Linked DNA regions of Homo sapiens: regions 1 and 3 are each linked to region 2. Evidence: fine-mapped expression QTL. A gene starts in region 2. Each other region holds a variant in brackets. All regions are shown on one strand. Distances are between the middles of the regions.

Region 1 (8,188 bases), 47 kb before region 2:
CAGAGAGACATTCTGAAGGGAACCCTGCAAGTTGCCTGTTGTTGTTCTTCCCAGGGGAGGACTGAGCATACAACCACTGCTTCCCAAGGGAGGCTTTTCCCACAAAGGGGGCACAGCAGTCTCCTGAGAGAGAGAAACATGTTATAGCTCAACTATTTAAAGGACTGTGCTGATGAAATCCAACATTTATGAGGTCAGTATTGTTTTGTTTAATGGCACAACTGCCATGTATTGCAGGTAAAGGTGGTCTGTGCTCCTGGCCTGGCTACCTCAGAGGCCACCACTCTTAAAACATGCATTGCTGCTCACCATGAAAACTGGGAGAGTGGCCGGCTGTGGTGGCTCATGCCTGTAATCCCAGCACGTTGGGAGGCCGAGATGGGCAGATGACTTAAGGTCAGGAGATTGAGATCAGCCTGGCCAACATGGTGAAACCCTGTCTCTACTAAAGGTACAAAAGTTGGCCAGGCATGGTGGTACGCACCTGTAATCCCAGCTACTCAGGAGGCTGATGCAGGAGAATCGCTTGAACCTGGGAAGTGGAGGTTGCAGTGGGCTGAGATTGTGCTACTGAACTCCAGCCTGGGCAACACAGCGAGACCCTGGCTCAAAAAAAAAGAAAACTGGGAGAGTGGCTACAGCTGTATGAACCATTGCCATGGGCCAGGACATTCGTAATAGCAAAAATCTTCTCTTATAAATTTCTAATTTGGACAGTTCATTTGTGAATTAGGCAAGGTTACTCCAGATATATATATATATATATATATATATATATAAATATATATATTTTATATATAAAAAACATGAATTTAATATGCATAAATTGACTCTGAATTTTAGTGGAAATTTGAAGATGTTGTGGCAAAGGATATATTCTTTCTCGAGAATGTCTGAAAACCAAAGAATATCTTTACAAATGAATAATATATCTCTTTTCTTTCAATGCCTCTCCTGACACTAGTAAATTAATCATATGCCATAGTATAGGATATTTAGTTATTTCAGCATCAAGGTCCCGTTAAAGCCTAGCTAACCGTTTCCAGCTATTCCTGAACTATCTATGGGTGGGAAATATTTGGAAGCTCAGGATCACTGGGCAAATATCTGCATTACAAACTATCTATGGGTGGGAAATATTTGGAAGCTCAGGATCACTGGGCAAATATCTGCATTACATAAGAATAATGTTACCTAATAATATTTTGTATTAGCATATCACTAGTTTTCAAAGCTTTATTACATAAATCCCATTTAATAGACTGAGGTACCATACTCAATTACAAGTTCTATACAGAGGGGAAGGAAACAAGAATTTTTATTTAGAAACAGCTATCTTGGCCAAAATAATGTCATATTAAAGTGTCTCTTCTAGAATGGTTTGAGTCCATGTTCTAAGGTCTAAGTTTTTGATTCTGCCATCTGCAATGGCTTAAAGAGAAAAATGCTATGAGCTATCTAAATATCAGAAGCTTCTTGTTCTAACAGGACCCCATCCTTAGGGACTCAAAAATATTTTTCACGATTATAGAAATGCTTTCCATAGACTCAACTGAAATGAAAGATGTGATATATGGAAACTCTGACATGTTAAACACTTTTAAAAGTAACCTTTTATTTCAGTAATGTCAGTGAACACTTATTCATGAGAACACCTGCTTAAGCAATTTATATCAAGCAGGGTATATGTTTTAGGTTCTTTTAAACTTGGTGGTAATGACACCTTATTAACCTAGCAAGACTGTGTCAAAGCCCTGAGTAAAGCGACAGGGTTTCTTTTGGATCATGGTAACTTTTTAACATGAAAATAAAGAACATGAAGGAAAAGCTTAGTGGTACAGATAGTACTTAATAGAGCAGGAGTGAATGGTCTGACTTAATTAGAGAAAATCACCTATTAGCTAACTGATAATTTTGGAAAAATTCAAGGTACAGTTTGTGTGTTCTTAGTACATGAGTTCCTATGACTGTATAATTAATGAGCATCTAACTAAAGATTTTATATTTTCACTTGGTCATGTTTTGCTGTACACGCTGGAAAAAGATTAGTTTACTTAGTCTCTACAGGGTCTATTGTAGCCCTCTATTATCATTTGCTCCATTTTTAACAATACTGTCCTTTCTTGATAAAGTCTTTTGTTCTTGATTTCAGAGATTTGGAGTCTTTTGTTCCCTTGAGTCTAAATATATATAAATTACTATATATATATTACTATATATATAAATTACTATATATATTACTATATATATAAATTACTATATATATTACTATATATAAATTACTACATATATATAGTAATTTTTCTGTTTTGCACAGGTAAAAAATACTTTCTGCTGACTTTTTTTTTTTTTTCATTTAAGAACAGTGGCACTTTGTAAGGTAAAAGGTTCCATACAGCTCTTTCTTAAGATAGAAGTCTGTCTTGGGTCTCAATGGAGACAAAATTATCTGCCATAAAGGTAGATACATTGCCTAGGGGAAGGGACCAAAATGTTACACATAAGTCCCAACAAGCATCTTCCTGATCCCCCCTTGCTCAGAGAATAAGCTTAAATTAAAACTAGCCTACTTGCTAGCAATAATCAGGGTAAAAAGCAAGGCTGGGGACCCTCTAGTGCACAATTTAATTTCACATGTCTGAATTAAGTACTTAACAGCATTATGTGGAGGGTGGAGGTGAGGGGGTAGAAGCTCTTCTCCACAAGGTTTTCTAAACATGACAAGAGCAGTGATAAAAGAAGAAGCCGACAGGATTGACTTTATAAAAACTAAACAACTGTGTATAATACCAAACACCATAACTAAACCAAAAAGACAAATGACAAAATGGAAAAAATGTTTGCAATATATAATAATAAAAGCATCAATAGTCTTAAAATATAAAGAACTCTTATAAATAAGAAAAAGATATCAAATAGAAAAATGGACAAAGGGCATGAAGAGACAAGTCACTATATATCTGTATCTTACTACATCCATATATAGATATATATACAGTCATGCATTGCTGAATAATGGGGATTTGTTCTGAGAAATAGGTGATTTTGTTGTGTAAACACTGTAGAGTGTACTTACACAAACCAGGATGGTATAGTCTACTGCATCTAGGCTATATGGTATAGCCTATTGCCCCTAGTCTACCAACCAGGGCAGGATGTTACTATACGGAATACTGTAGGCAACTGTAACACATGGGAAGTATTTGCATATCTAAACATAGAAAAGGTACAGTAAAAACAGTATACAAGATAAAAAATGGTACACCTGTATGGGGGCACTTACCATGAATGGCACTTGCAGGACTGGAAGTTGCTCTAGATGAGTGAATGTGAAGGCCTAGGACATTATTATATACTAGTGCAGACTTCATAGACATTGTATACTTAGGCCACACTAAATTTATTAGAATTTTTTTTCTTCAGTGATGAATTAATCCTAGCTTACTGTAACTTTCTATTTTATAAACTTTTAAATTATTAACTTTTTGACTCTTTTATAAAGTAACAGCTTAAAACACAAACATTGCACAGCTGTACAAAAATATTTTCCTTCTTTATATACTTATTCCATAAGCTTTTTTTTCCTGTTTTTAAAGAGGTTGTTTTTTAAAAAAATTTTAAAACACATTTTTGTTAAAAACTAAGATACAAACACACATATTAGCCAAGGACTACACAGGGTCAAGATCATCAAGAAGTCACTAAGCAAGAGGAACTTTTTGGCTCCATTATAATCTTATGGGACCACCACTGTGTATGTGGTCAGTCATTCGCCAAAACATTGCTATGTGGTGCACAAGTGTATATTCAATATAAAAATGTTTAACCTTACTAGTAATCAAAGAGATACAAATGTTGAAGCAATAATAAGATGAAAATAGAACATGCATTCCATTTTTAGGTATTATCCTAAGTAAAGCATTATGGATATGTGCAGATTTAGCTACTAGGATGTTCACTGAAGCATTGTTCACAATGGCGGCAAACTGGAAACAACTTAAATTCCAGTAATACAGGAGCTAAACAAATTCCAGCTTATGGTTCATTACAGAGTATCATGTAGCCATTACAAAATGGTGGCACAGAATACTAGTCCTTAGACAGGGGATATGTATTACGTCCACTTGCGGAACTTAAAAAAAAAGAGCTGCCCCACACCCAAAAATTCTGTTTTAGTAGATGTGATTCTGAGGTATACTCTCAGTTGAGAACTACTATTGCAGAAGTGTATGTAATGACAGAAAATGCTCATGTTATATTGTGAAAACGTAATTTTTTTTTTAGAAGAACAGTAAGTATTAGTATTAAGAAGGAAAAAAAAACATGGCCTTCCTTTTCCTGAATTTTGGCAGACGAGTTCCTCAATGGCCTGACTAAAGAAAATTTAAAAGCTAAATAAAATATTAAGAGATAAATTTGCATATGCTTAAAGACTAGATGGCTATACTTTAACATGTTATTAGTGATTATCTATAGATGACAGAATTATAGGAGTTTTTCTCTGTGATCTTCTATCAAATTGCTACAATTAGTACATATGACTTTTCTTATTAGAAAAAGAAAAATTTTAAATTTCCCCTCTTGTAAGTCACAAACTCATTTAGAAAGGAAATGTCTGATGATCAAAAAGGGGAGTTCAAGAGTTATAGACAGTGCTTTACCTGTCTTTTCCTAAACGAATATTTTACTTAGTTGTTTTAAATGCCCTTTCGATATTAAATCCCTACTAACTTCCAATGATGCCAAAGTTTATATATGATTATAAAAAGAAGATTCAATTCAAGGAAATAAACACTGCCTGAAAGGTAGTGCATTGAGGCAGCTCTAATCTTCTGATAGCCTAGACAAAGCAATCTGACAATGACTGACATACCAGCTATAAAAGCACAAACCTCAAATGCAAGTGTTTACTAAGCAGGAAAAACAACGTACCTGTCCATTTTTTACTGGTGGACCCACCATGGCTGTTGCCTCCTCAGGTAGACTGATGCCTGATAACCCATTGGCACTGAGTTTCCCCAGTGATGCTGCCTGCAGCAGTGCATCCATCTTCTTCCTAGTTTCCTCTTTTGTGAGAGCCAGCTCTCTCTTCAGGAGCT[CG/C]GCGCCATGCCAATGCTGCCATTCTGTAAAGCAGTGTCGGAGAACTTGTTTCCGGTTATACTCAGTGGCCAGTTGTTGTTTTCTAAGCAACAAAGCACTTCCATTAAAATAAAGAAGCCATTTACAGTTTGTTAATTGATAATATAAATGAAACATAAGTCCAAAAGGGTTCTAGAAATGCTCCATCTTAGCTCTCGCTTAACATTTTATATTAAGCTAAATGAAATTGCTTTATAAATTCCCCAGTGCAAAGGATCTCCTCATAGAAGGTGTCAGCACTTCAACAGATTACCTTCAAGAAGAAAGAGGAACTGTTCTGTTCTCATGTCACAAGGGCATGTTACATGTTTTTGATTACCATAGTTTCTGAAAGCTTTTGGAGGGGAAAGAGCAAAAAGAAGAGGTACACAAGTAATGACTTTAAAAAGATGAATGCATGAGGGAGACAGAGGTTCAGCTATGCACGAAAATTTTAAAAAGACAGGTTTAGGAGAAAGAGAAAGCAACAAAATTATAACACTTAACAAGTTAAATTGTCAATAATTTAAGTAAAAGGCTTACAAAAATCAAAGTAACACTGAGGGTTGATCTTGTGAAAGAAGAACTGGTCAGGGAAAGGACTGCTAAAGAGAAGGACTCATTTACCAAACCCTTGAACTGAATGCATGTCTGCCCCAAGAAGGTACTTGCTAAGCACTAGATGTGTAAAGGGCAAAGGCAAGGCCCCTGGTCTCATGGAACTCATTTATTTTCTACACCTTCCTAAGGAAGAGCTCACTTTGATTCCTGGAAACTTTATAAATGTTAGGGAATATGACTGAGGGGAGGTTGGGATGTGGTGTTACTGCCAGCCACATTTTCTTCCCAATGGGAATCTGCATTAGGAGATTTGGTGGCAGTCAGTTGAGAATTCAAACATAGAGGTCTGAGATCTATCTATAAGTGAATGGTTATTATCCTGAAGAACTTAGCTGTGAGTGTGGAACTTATTATGTAGTATCAGGGATCAGCTTTGAGGTTCAAAATATACTGTTTAGACACACACTGGATTGTATCTTGGAAAGGTGACTCATATAAGTTCTCCATATCCATTTCTGTTAAACATACATAATGCTTAAGTCTCCTCATGGACTCTTTGGGGTCATATCAAGCAAATCATAAAGTTCTTAACTCAGTGAGTCAGGAGACCATTTCTACAGTTCTTAAATGTTTATACGACTTTTAAACCTTTTTTTGACTGCAACCTACAGTAAGAAAAAATGTCACATTGTGACTCAATATACGTGTGTGTGTGTGTGTGTGTAAAAGTTTCACCAAATAATATTTACCCTTACCACAAGAGATATACTCTGATATTTCTAATCTATTCTATATTTCTTTTAAAAATAAGCAACCCTGCTAACAGCATATTTCATTATATTTAATTGTTTCCTTCTAATGCATTGATAGGTACTCAATAAATATTTAGAAATTCACTCACTGATGGTTTTTGTAATAAAAGTATAATATAGGTGGTAATAAACATTTATGTATGTTTTACTTTTATGAAAACAAATATCTGAGACTGAATAATCTTGAAATAAAAATTTTAGAAGAAATAACAATAAATCAGATAGCAACACAGGTAAGAACAAAGCTCTAAAAATCAGTGTATAAATAGTGAACAAAAAAACCCTGTAACACTTTATTCAAGTGAGTAAAAATCATAAATTTCTACAGGATAGAAGATGTACATTGCTGTGTCTGATTAATGTGAAATTCAATTTCCATCAATCTGCTCTGGAAGGAGGAGTGTGAAATTTACCTGATGTATTAATTTCCTGTTTTTACAGCACAAACAGCCAAAAGCAGCACTGGGGTTTTGACTGTCAAGGAGATTATTTGGACATTATGAAAAGGCAAAGAGAGAAACACTTCTGTAACTATAACAAGACTAAAAAAGTAAGAAAATGAGTAAAAAAATGCATGTTCAATATAGGGCTTAAAGCCCACTCTATAATGGTTGTGCGGGGATATGAAAATGTAGTTGGCCAGGCGCAGTGGCTGATGCCTGTAATCACAGGAATTTGGGAGGCTGAGGTGAGTGGATCACTTGAGCCCAGGAGTTTGAGACTTGGGCCACATAGTGAAACTTCATCTCTACAAAAAATATAAAAATTAGCTGGGCGTGGTGGTGAGTGCCTGTAGTCCCAGCTACTTGGGAGGCTGAAGTGGGAGGATCACCTGAGCCTGGGAAGTGGAAATTGCAGTGAGCCGAGATTGTGCCACTGCACTCCAGCCTGGGCAACAGAGTGAGACCCTGTGTCAAAGAAAAAAAAAAAAGTAAAAAAGAAAAAACAGAAAATGTAGTTACGATATCTGTATTTGTGGTTTGAGGCAGAAAGGCAGAAGCACAGAAGCTAGAGATCCAGAGACAAGGATAGTTCCACTACTGTTTTCTTGTAGCTCACTTCAGCAGAGTGACAATGTTGCATATAAGCCAATTTCTATACTTTCTAAAAGATAACACTAAAACATAAATATTTCTAAAAGCGAAAAATCACTTAAATTTCTTAAACCTTAGTCAGATGCAACTTACTTTGGTATGCTCACCTAAAGAAATGGTTTCAGACATAGGTGCCAGATAATCATAAATGGAAGGGCAGAGTTCCCTTATGAAAAATAGCCTATCCCAATTTCCTTGCAATCTGAAATCAGGGAATTTCTAGCCAGAGTATATAAATTGATCATCACAATGATATATAACTGCATGCAGAGAAAGGCAGGCTCTGCTCATCTAAGAATATAAAATACAAAAGGTTTGAATAGGAATTTAAGTATGAACCTTGCTGCCCAGGATGAACACTCAATGATACTGGGTGACTGGTGCATGTTTTGGAACTTACAAGTCAGAAGAAGAATGCTAACTAGACATGGGACACTGGGACAGCAACTGAGTTTCTAAGCCCCAGATTCATCCTCAAAAACAGTGTCAGTAAGCCCTATTATGCTGCCTATCCTACAAGAGTTTTTTTCCTGAGAATCTAATTCAATTTAAAACAACCCTGAAAATATAGAACAAAATTCACATGTAAGGTAATACCCACTG
Region 2 (8,188 bases):
GGACTAGTCATTAGAAAATTCTTATTTGTGATGCACACGTAGTTTTCACCCATTAGTCCCTAGGTCATTGTAACTACAGTGCAGTCTTTCCAACATCTGAGGAAGGCCACCATATCCTCTCCCAAGGCTTCTTTTCACAACTCCTTTAATCCTCTTCATGTGATACTCATGGCATTTGAAACGAAGTCTACACACCTGTTTTCTTGTCATTCCTACTTAAATGGTATCATGAGAGGCAACAGAATTATGAAAAAAAATACTAAAAAGTATAAAATTAAGGCAACTTACATAGTCACACGGGAATAAAAATAGCAGAGTATGTGCAAAGTGGAGATCTATTCATATTTCTTTTCCATCTGATTATGCTTGACTCTTAATACTCTTTTTATTCTAAATTTGAAATATCCTTACCTTTATCCAGTGTTCCACACTGTCAGGACCAAAAGTAGGCTGTAGATAACATATATATGATATCAATACGCAGCAATATCTTTATCAACTTTGCCATTTAAATCTATCCTTCTGACTAAAGCATATGGAACAGTGTCCTTTATTATTTCCCCAAAGCATTTCATTAGAAAGTTCAGCATGATTAGCAATAAAAGACACAGAATAGCAGTATGAGGAGAAAACATGAAGCCTTCCTGGGACACTGATTGTTTTTATTTCTTGTCTAGGTCCACCTTGATATTGTGATTTAATTGGTCTGGGATAGGACCCTGGCACTGCTATTTTTTTAAACCTCCTTAGGGTTAAGAGTCAAGATATAGAAATGCTAAATATAAAGCTACTCATTAAAAAAAAAAAGCACTGATTAATTAGCCAGATTATCCAAGTAATCTTTAGCTTAAAGAAGGGTGTGTTCCTCTCCTTACTCCTTTCATAAGTAGCCTGTAGCAAGAGGCTTTCTCATCTTACCCAGATCAGGGATCTTGTTTGGCCCAATAAAAACTGAAGGTTAAAAAATCTGACTTCTACTGTTTTACAAAGCAGAAAATATAAATTTCCACCCAGATCAGTCAGGTATTAATCTGAAATTAGAAGTAAAACCATCAGGGCATTTCCTTTCTTCACTCTCTGTAACTCCTAGAAGCTTGGAGAATTCCCTCTAATAGTCACTTAACAAATAGAGTTATCTTCTTTGCCAAAAATGCAGGTGTGTTTTGGCCGGGAGCAGTGGCTCATGCCTGTAATCCCAGCACTTTGGGAGGCCAAGGCGGGCAGATCACAAGGTCAAGAGATCAAGACCATCCTGGCTAATACGGTGAAACCCCGTCTCTACTAAAAAAAAAATACAAAAAATTAACCAGGCGTGGTGGCGGGTGCCTGTAGTCCCAGCTACTCAGGAGGCTGAGGCAGGAGAATGGCGTGAACCCGAGAGGCGGAGCTTGCAGTGAGCCGAGATTGCACCACTGCGCTCCAGCCTGGGCGACAGAGCGAGACTCTGTCTCAAAAACAAACAAACAAACAAACAACAACAACAACAAAAACTGGGGAATGGGGCGAGGGTTAATCAATCTGACTTTTACTGTTTTACAAAGCAGAAAATATAAATTTCCACCCAGATCAGTCAGGTATTAATCTGAAATTAGAAGTAAAACTATCAGGACATTTCCTTTCTTCAACCTCTGAAACTCCCAGAAGCTTGCAGAATTCCCTCTAATAGTCACTTAACAAATAGAGTTATCTTCTTCACTAAAAATTCAGGTGTGTTTTTAAAATAAGGGGATATCCTGATGATTTGTCATTGGAGCACTAAATCTCTTTTGGTTTGGCGTTCCCAGTTCATGAATTGCTTCTTACTCAAATATACTCTTTAAAATAATAATAATAATAATAATAATAAAATAAGGGGATATCTAAACTAGCATACTGACACATGGAGGTGGGAAAAATATAATACTCTTTCACTTACCTAACACTTTACCTTCAAAGCATCTTACTGATAACTAACGCAGCTGTACTGCTTAATAATTTTGTCACTGCAACAAAGAAAGAGCTGATCTAATTAAAATACAACTGAACTTGAAGAAGCCCTATGTTTTTACCTTTTTTTCTCTAGGCAGTAATAATGAGCACTAGCAGCAAAAATCCTTCCTTTTGGAGTCCTAAGAAATTATTCTAAATTTTTACCTTTCATCATCAAGTCCATATCTATATCCTATCTTGGATCCAATACATTATGCAACTGATGTATTGAAATAGCAGCAGCCTCAGTTTCCAAGTCTCCCTGATGCTTCAGTCTGTGCCCTCTAGTATCTAGGGCAACATATTTGTCATGTGGAATATGTCCAATGCATTTAGCTGGTAAATTTAGAATAAATCGCAAGAACAATCGCCTGGGGCCCTCAAAAAGGCCACATACATCTACAGAATATTATTTAGGAAAGTATAACTTAAGGGTGAAAACAGCTGGTGAAACTGCTCTGTAGCTGAAAGCTGAGAAGCTTCTCCATTTTAGTACTCTCATTTAGATTTTAAGCATCTTTTTGGGGACTGTTAAAAAGGTAGTCTGTGGAAAGCACACGGTGCAACTGTGACTTTGCACATGTCACATATGTTTCAAGTTTAAAATGGGGTTATTATTTTTTTCTTATCTTCAGGTGCTAATGCATCCAAATGGGTGATAGATACGGAGAGAATCTATTTTTTGAAAGTTGGTTGAATTTAGAAATTACTATGTGAATCAAGTATTAATGTATTCAATATCCATTTGCACTCCTGAGTTTATTTAGATACTTTACGTAAAAGTGAAGGGGCAGGAATATAGGCAGGGTATTTAATGTGAAGCTCTCTCCCGTTAATAAAGATCAATTACCCCAAGATTTGCAAAAAAAAAAAAAGAGAGAGAAAAAGAAAGAAATGTGCGAGAAGTTTCCTAAAATTTAAGGTAGGGGGAACGGAGTTTGCAAACTCCTTTCACCCCGATGGGCATTAGCAGACACCTCCGGTTTTAGAAAAGCGTTACAAACAGTTCTTCCACGATGCTGCCCACCAAAGCCGTAATGTGCCCAGACCCCAGAGCTCCTAGAGCATTTCACTCAGGGTAATGCTGGCTTTGGGGCGGTCAAGGCAGGGGCGTGTCAGCTCAGGATGAAGAGGCAGGAAGCACAGACGGGCCGCGACTGGCTTCCTGACTGCGCCGCGCCTTGGGAAAGTCCCCGCCCTCCAAAGCTCTCGATTGGGATCACCTTGGGACTCGGCTTCCTTGTGAACCGTTTCCAGCGATTCAGCCCCATCCTTTTCTTTGAGAAGGACCTTCCCTGAGGCGCCAGGAGCATTTTCCAAGTTCGAGCCCGAACCTCGGCCAAAGCTGCAGCAACCGCCCTTCTGCCCGGGCTGCCTCCGGGTCACGCTGGGAATTGTAGTTCCTCCGCCCGCAAGGAAAGCAGGCATAGGACACCGTCGAACCACCACTCCCACGAGGCTCTGCGCAGGCCGCTCGCGTTGGCTCAGTTACCATAGCAACGGCAGAGGTCCCTCGCTCTTGCCGTCATCAAGGCTCGCTTGAATGTCGGCTTTGCTTTTTTTCTGGCGCCCAGTGATGACGCAGTACTCCCTGATTGGCTCTGCACTGGAGGCAGTGATTTTGGGGCAGAGAATTTTGCAACACGTGGTAGTGAACTGTGAGGAGTTTGAGGGGTCTGAAGACTGAAAGAGTCGAATGGTTTGTTGGCAGGTAAGTGCCCCTTTGCCCTGCTGGTGTGGGAGCTGCTAGAGATGGATGAGTCACGTCGCGTCCAGACGCTTCCTGGTTGTGTTGCAGTAACGGTGATTGTACTCCCGCCATGTCTCCTCTGCTTCCCTTTTCAGGGTGTCCTGGTGGATTGGTTTCTGTAAGTTCAGATTCTCATAAATCGTGTGAGCGTCGCCGACACCTCTGAGATAAAAGGGCCCCTTTCGACTAGCCTCTGCTGAAAGGTAGAGTTTTCAGGAAGTTTTTATTCCGAACTGCCCATGGGAGGGTGGGACCGTCTTCAATCTCTGAGCCAGGTGCCTAGGGAGGTCTGGGGCCATGGAGATGGCCCATGGAGCAAAGATAAATCCAGGCTTATTGGCTTAGCCGAGGTGTTTCCAGAGACAGCCCATTTAGGGGTGATAAATGGGCTTATAAAGCAGAGTAAAGATTTAGAACAGGAGTTTTGAATTCAACTACTTTGTGGCTATATGACCCTAGGCAACTTGTTTAATAACTCAGAGACCCTGTTTTCTCATGCAAAATGGGGACGATAATACCTGAATCACTGGAGTGTTGTAATGATTAAAAATAAATGTATGTGAAGCATTCTGCCAGGAAATGTAAACTAAAGTTGATTTGAAATTGGTGAAAATGAAGTTAGGGAAGCTATGCCCTCGGACTGTTGCAGCGATCCTAGGACCAGCTCTGTAACTGGTCTGTCTGAAAGGCGGTTGAATAAATTGTGCTCATACAAACTATGCAGTACCACGAAGTAGTTTTTTTCAAAAGGGTAAGTTAGCTTTATGTCTCTTCTTCAGGAAAGACGTCTAATGTTTATTCTTGAGAGAAAAGCAAATTGCAGAGAAGTGCATATATTATAGTATAATATGTTTCCATTTTTGTAAAAGCAAACCCTGACCAAAACACTCCCTCCCATATGCAAGTATGTTTAAATATTTGTATGAGAATGGAGAAAGATTGCAGAGACTGGGAGGATGGATTAGAGGCGGGAGGGAGAAAGGGAAAAGAAGAAGAACACTATAGCAAAATGGAAACTAAGATTATAATGTGCTTGTGTACCAGATGGAACTTCTAATAAGCTCCCAGCCTATTAGAGTACAGCGCTGAAAACTAGACTTCAATAATTAAAGTCCTTGCTCTGCCACTTACCAGCTGGGGATTTTATCAGCCTCAGTTTATCATACATAAAATGCAGATAATAATGGTATCTATATTATGCATTTGATCTGAGGATTAATGGAGTGAATATATAAAGAACAGTGCTTAATACATAGTAAATACCCGATAAATGTTAGTTGCTATTATTGTCTTTCTATATGTGAAATTAATTTAACTTTTATTGTGATTACTGACATTTGGAATTCTACCATCTTATTTTGTGTTTTCTATTTCTTTTTTTTGGTCTCTTTTCCTTTCTTGCCTTTTATTAGGTTAATTCATTTTTCTTTATCTTCCCACTTCCCTCTCCAGTGAGTTTGGAAATTATGCATTCTGTCATTAATCGTTTAACAGTTACTTCTGAATTTTTAACACACATACTCAACAAAGTTTAACGTCGTCGTTATCTCTTTCCCCCTACCAAATGGTGTAACGATTTCCGAATGCCTTGGAAAAATCTTCATTTACTGTTTTCTAGAATTGTAGCGTTCTTCATTTCTTTTTTTTGAGACGGCATCTTGCTTTGTTACCCAGGCTGGACTGCAGTGGCATGATTTTGGCTCACTGCAACCTCTGCCTCCTGGGTTCAAGTGATTCTCCTGTCTCAGCCTCCGGAGTAGCTGGTATTACAGGCATGTGCTGCTACACCTGGCTGATTTTTGTGTTTTTAGTAGAGACGGTTTCACCATGTTGGCCTGGCTGGTCTCGAACTCCTGACCTTAGGTGTTCCTCCCACTTCGGACTCCCAGAGTGCTGGGATTACAGGCGTGAGCCACCGTGCCCGGCCAGCGTTCTTCATTTCTGTGTGTCATTTCTGAGTCAGCTCAATGCACCACATTGTTTAAAAGTCCTTCAGTCATTTTTCTATGCATATACTATGATTATAGAAAGTGTACATGTGTGGGAGAGAGGGGTAAGAGATGCTGATGTGTACTTATATATACAGCTTTCCTTTCACAAAAAATATGACCATCTTTTGCCTTAGGAAATTTTGGACATTTCCATGGCAGTATGTAGAGAATCCAGCTAGGAAACATTTAAAAATCCATTCTCTCCTGATAAATGAAGAGTGGAGGTGGTGGGTCGCACTGGAAGTGTTAGGACAGGTACGGTGTTGCCAGAAGTGCAGGGAATCTTTGTTAGTCCTTGTAAAGGTACAGATCCACTGACAGCCTGTCATTTGTCTTTACACTCTTAAGGGTTTTTCCTTAAGACTTTCTCAGGAATGCCATCTGTGACACCAGAAATATTAGAGCAGACCCACAACAAGTGAAAAGGGAAGGGATCATGATAAAGGCAAATAAAAACTAGTTAGTATTTTGGAGACTGTTGATCTGTTTCTTGAACTTTCCTTGGCAAAAAAGGAAATAATCACTCTCAAAGCATGTTTTTAAAAATATGTACATGAATATGTGTATGTGTGTGTACTATTTTATTACTTCATAGTAACAATTTATTGTATTTGAGCCTCTAGAAAAGAAGTGTAATTATAAAAAACATTTACCATAACCTGAACAATGAATGAAGAAAGGAAGACTTGGTTCTTCTAGCTCTGGACAAAATTCCATTTTTTTAAAAAAAATATTGATTTCCAGCTGAAGTATAGTACATCTCTGATGTTTTCCTCAGATTTTAAAATATTTGCATTCATCCCCACAAAACAGAATCACTGACCATGGCAGTTTATTTTAATACTTTTTCTTAAACCCAGTCATCTGCTTTTGCTTCCTTATTTTTCTCTTCGTTAATATGTTGAGTTACTGTGATTAGGGTGGAACTTTTATGAAGCCCCAAACAACAGAAGTGAGTATGTAGCACCAAAATCGTTCACTGTAGAGAAAGCCAAGTAGGTATTTCTCTCCAGCTGGCTGAGTGGGTTCAGTATTCTAAGCTGAGGATTTTGAATTTCATCTTTAAAGTTATTTGGGATTAAAGCATTATATCACAGGAGAGCCCATCTCTGCCTCTAAGAACATGGTGGCCAATGTCCTTTAGAGTTACAAAGGACCTCTAATTACAGACTTTCAGTTAAGAATCAAGAAAGTTGTTTCTTCAGTTGAGGAAAGAGTGGGAAGGGGAGATGAGAGGGAAGGGGAGATGAGAAAGAAGAGAGAAGATGCCTTCAGGACTGAGTGGATGATTAATCACACTTGAGACTCGTTTGTTAAAAGATGGGAACTTCTAGAATATGTTCATTCTTTCCTTACACAAGGATGAAACTAAGAAGTCTTTGAGAGAAAGGTAAGTCTTGGAAGCCAATGGTCTGGGCTTCCAGGTCTGGCTGCCTTTATACTCTTAGAGAATCCTTGTGTCCAACCTTGGAGAATCTGAGATTGGTTGTTTGGTCATCTTCGCTTATCTGTGGGGAATATGTTCCAAGACCCCTTGTGGATGCTGGAAACTGCAAATGGTTCCAAACCCCAGATAGATAGGTAGGTAGGTAGGTAGGTAGGTAGATAGATAGATAGATAGATAGATAGATAGATAGATAGATAGATAGATAAGATAGATTAGATAGATAGATTAGATAGATCCAAACCCTAAATAGATAGACAGACAATAGACAGACAGTATGATGTTTCCTATCTATACATACCTATAATAAAGTTTAATTTATTAATTAGGCACAGTAGTAGATGTTAGTCACCTCGGCAAACAGTCTTTTTTCTTTTCCTAGTTGGAGAACTTTAACCTTTTCTCATAAGGGATCACTTTATGGCTTCCCTTTGGCATATCCGTATTGCCAGCATCACAACTCTTGTGCTGTGGGGCCAGTCGTAAGTAAAATAAGGGTAACTTGAACATAAGCACTGCAATACAGTGACGGTTGATCTGATCAATGTGACAGCTCCTAAGTAACTAAGGGGCGAGTGGCGTCTACAGTGTGAAGATGCTGGGCAAAGGGATGATTCACGTCCTGGGTGGAACAGAGCAAAATGGTGAGAGATTTCATTATGCTACTCAGAATGGCATGCAATTTCAAACTTATGTTTATTTCAGGAATTTTCCGTTTAATATGTTTGGACCTCGGATGTCCATGGGTAACTGAAACTGGAAAGCAGAACTGTGAATGGGGGTACTGTGTTAAGAAAACCGATGGGTTTCCTTTTAGTTGCCTTTATGTACCTTCTTCTTCCCATTCTGATTCTATGCTTGCATGGCATATTTGGCTTCATGTATTGCATTCTATAGGGCAAACATGCCACTGACTGATCCACTTTGCTTTTTTCGATTCTCAGAGTAAATAATTGTGCATACTGATTTTATTGTTTAGTCTCTGAGGTTGATAGGTTTGAGCCTGACCCTGAGTGATGGCTCTGTGCTGGGTAT
Region 3 (8,188 bases), 41 kb after region 2:
CGCCATAATCTGAACCTAACCAATTGCCGTGGACTTTTCCACTTTTCCTAAGTGGTTATATCCTAATCCTACCCATTCTCAAGGTCCAGCCCAAGAACCAAACCTTCCATAAAAACTTGCTTTTCTAGAATTCTAGAGTCTCAAGATTGGAAGAGGAGAGGCTTCTATTCTGATTTCCTTTGTTCATAAAGGCACCAGCAACCAGTGCTCTAGGCATCTGATTTAATCAGTGCTTCAGTTCTGTGAGCCTCATCTTCCAACCAGACTATCAGCTCTGTAAGGGAAAGATAATCCCTCAGCATTTGCCGTGTCTGCACCCTCACCCCTGCCCCACTGAAATTAAGGGAGAATGTGTGATTAATTTTCTTCTCATCATGTGTCTGTAGTATGTTCTCTACTTCTCCATCTTTAACACATCACTTTATCCGTTTCTTTTTTCATTATAATTTGTTCAATTCTGTCTGTGCCTTATCCATTACCTTCTTTTTTATTTTTATTTTTATTTTTTTAAGATGGAGTCTCGCTCTGTTGCCAGGCTGGAGTGCAGTGGTGTTCCCGGCTCACTGGAACCTCCGCCTCCTAGATTCAAGTGATTCTCCTGCCTCAGCCTCCCGAGTAGCTGGAACCACAGGTGCATGATACCATGCCCGGCTAATTTTTTGTATTTTTTTTTTTTTTAGTAGAGACAGGGTTTCACCGTGTTAACCACGATGCTCTCGATCTCCTGACTTCGTGATCCATCCATTACCTTCTTTATTGCTCATGGCAACCCTCTGAGGTTGACATTATCTTTTCCAATTTACAGAGGAGAAATTGGGCTGGGTGTGATGGCTCATGCCTTAGTTCCAGCACTTTGAGAGGCCAAAGTGGGAGGATCACTTGGGGCCAGGAGTGTGAGACAAGCCTGGGCAACAAAGCAAGACCCCTATCTCTACAAAAAATAAAAAATAACTAGCTGGGCATGGTGGTACACACCTGTAGTCCTGGCTACTCTGGAAACCAAGGAGGGACGATCACTCGAGCCAAGGAGTTTGAGGCTGCAGTGAGCAATGAACCCCAGCCTCAGTAACAGAGCAAGACTGTCTCAAAAAAAAAAAGACACAAAGCAAGGGATCCAGGATTTGAACTCTGAACTCAGCACTATGACTCAAAAGCCCAGGATTTTCCCCATTTTACCCCGGACCTTCCTAAATTGTGTTTTTCTTATGCAGAGCATCTGCTCTCCTTCAAGAACAACGACCAAAAGTAGGTGGAGGCAGCTGGGCGCGGTGGCTCACGCCTGTAATCCCAGCACTTTGGGAGGCCGAAGCGGGCGGATCGCAAGGTCAGGAGATCGAGACCATCCTGGCTAACACGGTGAAACCCCATCTCTACTAAAAATACAAAAACAAAATTAGCCGGGCGTGGTGGCGGGCGCCTGTAGTCCCAGCTACTTTGGAGGCTGAGCCGGGAGAATGGCATGAACCCGGGAGGTGGAGCTTGCAGTGAGCCAAGATTGCGCCACTGCACTCCAGCCTGGGCGACAGAGTGAGACTCCGCCTCAAAAAAAAAAAAAAAAAAAAAATAGGTGGAGGCCTATCCCAAACTGAACTTTTGTGTACTCTGAACCTCTCCTATTTGCCCTCTGGGCTACCCCCATAATTACTCCGTGGTATTAAGGACTGGTAAGTTGGGATAACTTATTAACTATTCCTCTTTCTATTTGTGGTCTCAGAAATCTGAACTACATTTTAATGATAAGAGGGCTGAGGAGTGACCCAGAGATGCTAATTTTGTTTTGGTTAAAATCTCATACATTCGCATATAAATGAAAAGCAAAAGGACGTTTAAATCGTAGAAAGGGAAAAAAATAGCTTAGTCTTTCTCTTTGTCAGAAAGAAGCTTCTTTGGTAACACATAGTGTATGATTTTAGAGCCAGAAGGAATGTTACAAATTATCTATCCAACCCCTTCATTTGACAGAGGCAGAACCCAGGCCCAGACAGTGTGTGACTAACCCAAGGTCCAACAGGAAATGAGAGGCAAGGCTAGAACTAGAGTCTAGGTTTCCTTTTCCACCCCAATTCTTCTCTGAGTCCTTATCTCTTGTTCTGCCTCTATTCAGCCTCGTTGGTAACTTGTACCTCACAAACTAGGTGTGGTACAGACATTATTATTGCTACTCTGACAGTGACTATAGCCTTTCTGGCTGCTGGGATAACAGTGATTCTTGAACACAGAGACCATTCTGTTTGTAGATACATTTTAGGAGACTTCGTTATTATGACTGTGGATATAATGGAATTTGGAAAAAGATGTCTCAAACCCAGCTCAGAAAGATATATAGACCAAGCCCTTTCCAATATATTATGCCATTTATAATTCCCTCCCTGGCCTATGCCCCTCCTATAATTATACTTTAATAATTTTTGTTGGTTGCTGGTTTTTATCAGAAGAGGGGAGGAAGTGAGCATCTTCCAGGGCCTCATCAGGAGATCCTGTCTTTTTCTCACAGGTCCTTGATAGTCTATGGAATTTGTCCCAGCCGATAAGCACATACAACCCAATCTTAATCAGGGACTTCCCAATATATTGGTACCAAGGATTTTGCTCATTTGTGTATGTCTTCCCCATCCTAATTCTCTGATACTTAGAATTCATTTATTCACCTAGTCAAGAAAGATTAATCCACTGCCAACTAAGTGTCAAGTGCTCTCCAGACACTGGATTAAATGACAAAAACCCTACTTGCCTTCTCGCAATTTATAGACCAGGAGCAAACTCCAAAATTACGTATATTCTACATAGAGTTAGAAAGCTTCACTTTACTCATGTAGTCTGTCAAATCAAAGTCCAACCTAATGTAACCACCCAATGGGTTCTCCTTGCCCACTGCCCAGAGAGAGCTGATTTAAGACAGGGGAATTGGAATAGAGAAAGAGTTTAATTCATGCAGAGCCTGCTAAATGGAGACCAGAGTTCTGTTACTCAAATCAGTCTCCCCCAAAATTTGGAGACTCGGGTTTTTAAAGGATAATCTGGCAGGTAGGGGACCAGGGAGTGGGGGTCGCTGATTGGTTGGGTCAGAGATGAAATCATATGGGGTCAAAGTGGATTCGTCTTACTGTCTCCTGCTCCTAGGTGGGATTGCAGTGCTGGTTGAGCCAGATTACTGGTCTGGGTGGCACCAGTTGGTGCATCAGAGCACAAGGTCTGCAAAATATCATGAGCACCAGTCTTACGTTTTATGATAGTGATGTTATCCCTAGGAGCAACTGGGGAGGTTTAGAATCTTGTGGTGTCTAGCCGCATGACTCCTAAACCATAATTTCTAATCTTGTGGCTAGTTAGTCTTACAAAGGCAGCCTGGTCCCCAAGCGAGAAGAGGGTTTGTTTTGGGAAAGGGCTGTTATTATCTTTGTTTTAAAGTTAAACTATAAACTAAGTTTCTCCCAAAGTTAGTTCAGCCTCATGCCCAAGAATGAACAGGGGCAGCTTGGTGGTTAGAAGCAAGATGGAGTCAGTTAGGTCAGATATCTTGCACTGTCATAATTCTCCCACTGTCATAATTTTGCAAAGGCTGTTTCACTAAGAGATGACAGAAGGTGGAAAATCACCACATGACAGTATCTATGGGTAAAGAAAATCAAAATGTTAGTGGTTTACATTTCATTATCTACTCATTATTAAGGAAAGAACTACAGACCAAATTAATGAGTTGAATTTGCCTCTTAGCTGCCTTGATTAGCTCAACATTAATTCTGTTTGAGTGTTCTTTTTCCTTCCCTCCCTCCCTTCCTTCCTCCCTTCCTTCCTCCCTTCCTCTCTCTCTTTCTTTTCTTTTCTTTTCTTTTGAGACAGAGTTTTGCTCTTGTTGCCCAGGCTGGAGTGCAATGGCATGATCTCGGCTCACCGCAACCTCCGCCTCCCAGGTTCAAGCAATTCTCCTGCCTCAGCCTCCCGAGTAGCATGCGCCATCACACCTGGCTAATTTTTTTTTTTTTGTATTTTTAGTAGAGATGGGGTTTCTCCATGTTGGTCAGGCTGGTCTTGAACTCCTGACCTCAGGTGATCTGCCCACCTCGGCCTCCCAGAGTGCTGGGATTACAGGAGTGAGCCACCAC[G/T]CCTGGCCTCTCTTTCTCTTCTTTTTTGAGACAGGTTTTTGCTCTGTTGCCCACAATGGAGTGCAGTGGAATGATCTTGGCTCACTGCAACCTCCATCTCCCGGGCTCAAGGTAATCCTCCTGCCCCAACCTTCCCAGGAGCTGGGACTACAGGCATGCGCCACCACAAGATGGGGTTTTGCCATGTTGCCCAGGCTGATTTTGAACTCCTGAGCTCAAGTGATCCACCTGCCTCAGCCTCCCAAAGTGCTGGCACTACAGGCGTGAGCCACTGCACCCCGCCCTGAGTGTTCTGCATCTTAAGGTTCCCAACAAATCTGTAAGCACCCTAGAAGTATGATTGTTCCCATTTTATATTTGAGGAAACAGGGCTGAAACAGTCAAGTAACTGTTTTAAATAATTCTGGGCTGGGCACAGTGGCTCATAGCCAGGAGTTTGAGACCAGCCCAGGCAGTATGGGGAGACCATGTCTCCATTAAAAAAAATAATAATAATAATAGTAAAAATAGGGAGTTTCAGCGCCTACTCTGGCTCAAGAGGCTGCCTGATAAAATAACAAAATGAATAAAATAAAATCACTTTGACTTCAGGAATATCTGCTTGAAGAGCCTGTGCTATTATTTCTGTTCTCCTTCCCTTCTCACTCACTGTCGCCTGGGGGCCAGGGTAAGACACTGCAATGAATATAAAAACAATATAACCTCCTCACTCTTAATAAATGTGTTTCTACAAAGTCATGTCCTGATTTTGTTTATTTATTTATTTTATTTTATTTTTTTGAGACAGTCTTGTTCTGTTGCCCAGGCTGGAGTACAGTGGTGCAATCTCAGCACACTATAAACTCTGTCTCCCAGGTTCAAGTGATTCTCCCACCTCGACCTCCCTGGTAGCTGGGTCTACACGTGCATGCCACCACGCCCAGCTAGTTATTATATTTTTAGTAGAGGTGGGGGTTTTGCCATGTTGGCCAGGCTGGTTTCGAACTCCTGACCTCAAGTGATCCACCCACCTCAGCCTCCCAAAATACTGGGATTACAGGCATAATAGAGCCACTGCACCCAGCCATGTCCTGATTTTATTAACACAATTTTGGGAAAAGTGATTTAATCTTGACATCTAAGAAGATAATCAGGGGAGTAGAGACCTTTCCTAATGACATCCCATTTACTAAAAACCTTTTTGGAGCAACATTTGGAAATAGAGTTCAGGAAAGGAACTCAGACTGGGCAGTACATTCGGTTGAGTATTTCTAATGATAGCATTGTATATATGCTTTAAATTTTAGAAAATAACAAAGTCATTTAAATCCATGTCTCAGCTGGATGCAGTGACTCACACCTGTAATCCCAGCACTTTAGCAAAGGCTGAGGCAGGAGGATCTCTTGAGGCCAGGAGTTTGAGACCAGCCTGGGCAACAAAGATAAACCACATATATACAAAAAATTTAAAAATTAGCCTGGTGATGTGGCATGCACCTCTAGTCCCAGCTACTTGGGAGGCTGAATTGGGAAGATTGCTTGAGCTTAGAAGTTGGAGGCTGCAGTGAGCATGATCACACTATTGCATTCTAGCCAGAGTGACAGAGCAAGACTCTGTCTCAAAAATCAATTGAGGCCAGGTATGGTGGTTCATGCTTGCAATCCCAGCACTTTGGGAGGCCAAGGCAGGAGGATTGCTTGAGCCCAGAAGTTCAAGGCCAGCCTGGGCAACATAGCAAGACCTTGTCTCTATTAATTTTTTTTAAATTAAAAAAAAAGCCATGTTTTATGAGGAGGTCAGGCTTAACTTACTGGAGTTTTTTTTTAAAATGTGATTTTGAAGTCAGTGATAAGATCCTAGCTAAGAAGCCACATTTGACATGTTCATTTGGAGATTTTCAAAGTTGCCATTTTGTACTGTTCACCAATTTGGATGCTCAATATTTGTTGAATGGATAGTCTATTCATTCAACATGTATTGCCTCTTACTATGCCCCACATTTTTTGGATGGTGGAGATTCAAAGGTGAAAATGTCAAGGTTTTTGCTTTTGAAATCACAGCTTAGTGGATGAAATAAATACTTCATTACAAAACAGCATAATAATCACTTTGCTAGTGGAATATACAAAGAACTATGGTATGAAAAGGTGAAAGTCTTTCTCACCTTGTTTTCTCAACTAAAATAAGAATATTCTGGTTGATAAATATGAATCTACTGTACTTATGGGGACAATAAAAAAAAACAGTTGAATTGGTACTTTAAAACACAATATATAGGGTGCAATGCCTATAATCCCAGAGCTTTGAGAGGCTGAAGCAGAGAATCTCCTGAGACCAGGAGTTTGATACCAGTCTGAGCAACAAAGTAAGACACCATTTCTACCATCCCCCACCCCAAAAAATAGCTGGATGCTTGTAGTGCAGCTACCATACAAAAAAATAGGCTCATGCTTGTAGCCCTACCTACTCAGGAGGCTGAGGTGGGAGAATTGCTTGAACCCAGGAATTCAAGGCTACAGTGAGCTATAATCACGCCACTGTACTCCAGTCTGGGCTACTGAGTGAGACCCTGGCTCTCAATAAAAAAGATGCATAGAGCTTTGCTTTACCAAGGGAATAAAATTCCAGGCCACTAATAAAATGGCCTGAAAATTCCTCCCAGATCTGACCATGTTCTTCCCACAGTGCCCTTTTTCCTCTCTGATTATCTTTCCATCATTCATCCCATTATTCACAATTCGCTGACTGACTAGTCTATGGGAGTAATACAAAAGAAAGGATCATTGCCTTCTCTGATAAAACAAAATGCAGACTTCCAAAGTTTAGTACCAGAAAGAAAGTGATATTCCATGAGGGAATGGTTAACTGATCACAGTAGCTCAGTCTTCTCACTCTGAGTGTTAACTTCCCATTGGGAGGTTTCATATTTGGGTTAGCGCCATCTCCACCATACTAGCTTCTCCCCTAGGAACACTCTGATTCAAGCTGGGTTGGAAACATTTATTTTCTTCCCTGAGAGTAGCTGAAATTTCTTCATTTTTTTCATATAACAGAGTAGATTTAGAGCCACAATCTTTTTTTTTTTTTTTCCTCAGCAGTAGGGTGGCAGAAATATCATCCACAATTGGACGTCTGCTTCACAGTCAGAGGAAGCATTCTAGCCATTGTTATAACCTCCCCTTGGGTCAGAAGTGATTGACAGTAATAACAGCTAATCCTAATTCCATTATCTCATTTGTAGTGGGTTCAATGAACAAGACCCTCTCTATTCTTCAACAGTAACATTAAACAGAAAGCTGGTGTCATTTTCTTAGTTTCAACCAATCAGCTCATAGCCAATCTTGTGTCTTCTGCATTCTTATTCACTCCCCATACAGACATCACTGGATTATTTTGATGCAAATCCTAGATGTTATATAATCTCATTCATAAATATTTCAATATGCATCTAAAAGATAAGGGCTCTCTTTAAAAACTTAAACACAGTACTGTTATTATACCTGAAAAGAAATAATAAGCTCTCACTATAACCAAATATTCTGATGGTATTCACGTTTCCTCCATCATCTCATAATTTTTTTCTGTTAGTTTGTTTGAATCAGCATCCATATGGCTACTCAGTGCTTGAATTGCAACTAGTCTCAATTGTGATGTGCTGATAATGTAAAAATACAACACATTTCCAAAACTTAACAGAAAAAGATATAAAATATTAATTATTTTTACATTGATTATAATCAATCAATCAATTGTAATTTCAATGCTTCAATCATAATTTCAATGATTTTTGAATATGTTAGATTCAATAAAAATATGTTAAAATTGTTTTCACCTATTCATTTTTACTTTTTTAATGAGGCTAGTAGAAAACTTAAAATTATACATGTGGTTTGCATTATATTTCTGTTGGATAGTGCTAATCTAAAGGATTGAGCAGGTTCAGGTTTGATTTTTTTTGCAAGACTGTTTCATAGGTGATGATGTGTTATTCCATCTGGAAGTACACAATGGTGGGCCATCTTTTTTGTGCTAAGATTGATCAGTGGTCCAGGTATTACAGCTGGATACATCCATGTTAAGTACATCATCAACTTTAAATCCAATG

What was found.
Region 1: its variant is fine-mapped to the expression of CCDC191 in whole blood (INTERVAL, PIP 0.98). The same link has a PIP of 0.9 or more in lung.
Region 3: its variant is fine-mapped to the expression of CCDC191 in aorta (GTEx, PIP 0.98).

What each region holds. Positions count from the first base shown.
Region 1 is chr3:114,005,840-114,014,027 of GRCh38, forward strand. CCDC191 (coiled-coil domain containing 191) reads right to left here. Exons shown (of 17, transcript NM_020817.2): 9 at 4,933-5,182; 10 at 1-123. LOC105374048 (a long non-coding RNA gene) reads left to right here. Exons shown (of 3, transcript XR_924347.4): 2 at 6,933-7,041. Among named protein-coding and RNA genes, the nearest start is that of CCDC191, 47 kb to the right of the region's middle. The variant CG/C (reference allele first, on the strand shown) is at 5,100.
Region 2 is chr3:114,053,186-114,061,373 of GRCh38, forward strand. It overlaps CCDC191 (coiled-coil domain containing 191), which reads right to left and starts at 3,341. Exons shown (of 17, transcript NM_020817.2): 1 at 3,192-3,341; 2 at 412-450. The coding sequence starts at 3,281. QTRT2 (queuine tRNA-ribosyltransferase accessory subunit 2) reads left to right here and starts at 3,552. Exons shown (of 10, transcript NM_024638.4): 1 at 3,552-3,679; 2 at 3,814-3,921. RefSeq lists enhancers at 3,083-3,492, 5,601-6,100.
Region 3 is chr3:114,093,973-114,102,160 of GRCh38, forward strand. No RefSeq gene overlaps it. Among named protein-coding and RNA genes, the nearest start is that of QTRT2, 41 kb to the left of the region's middle. The variant G/T (reference allele first, on the strand shown) is at 4,104.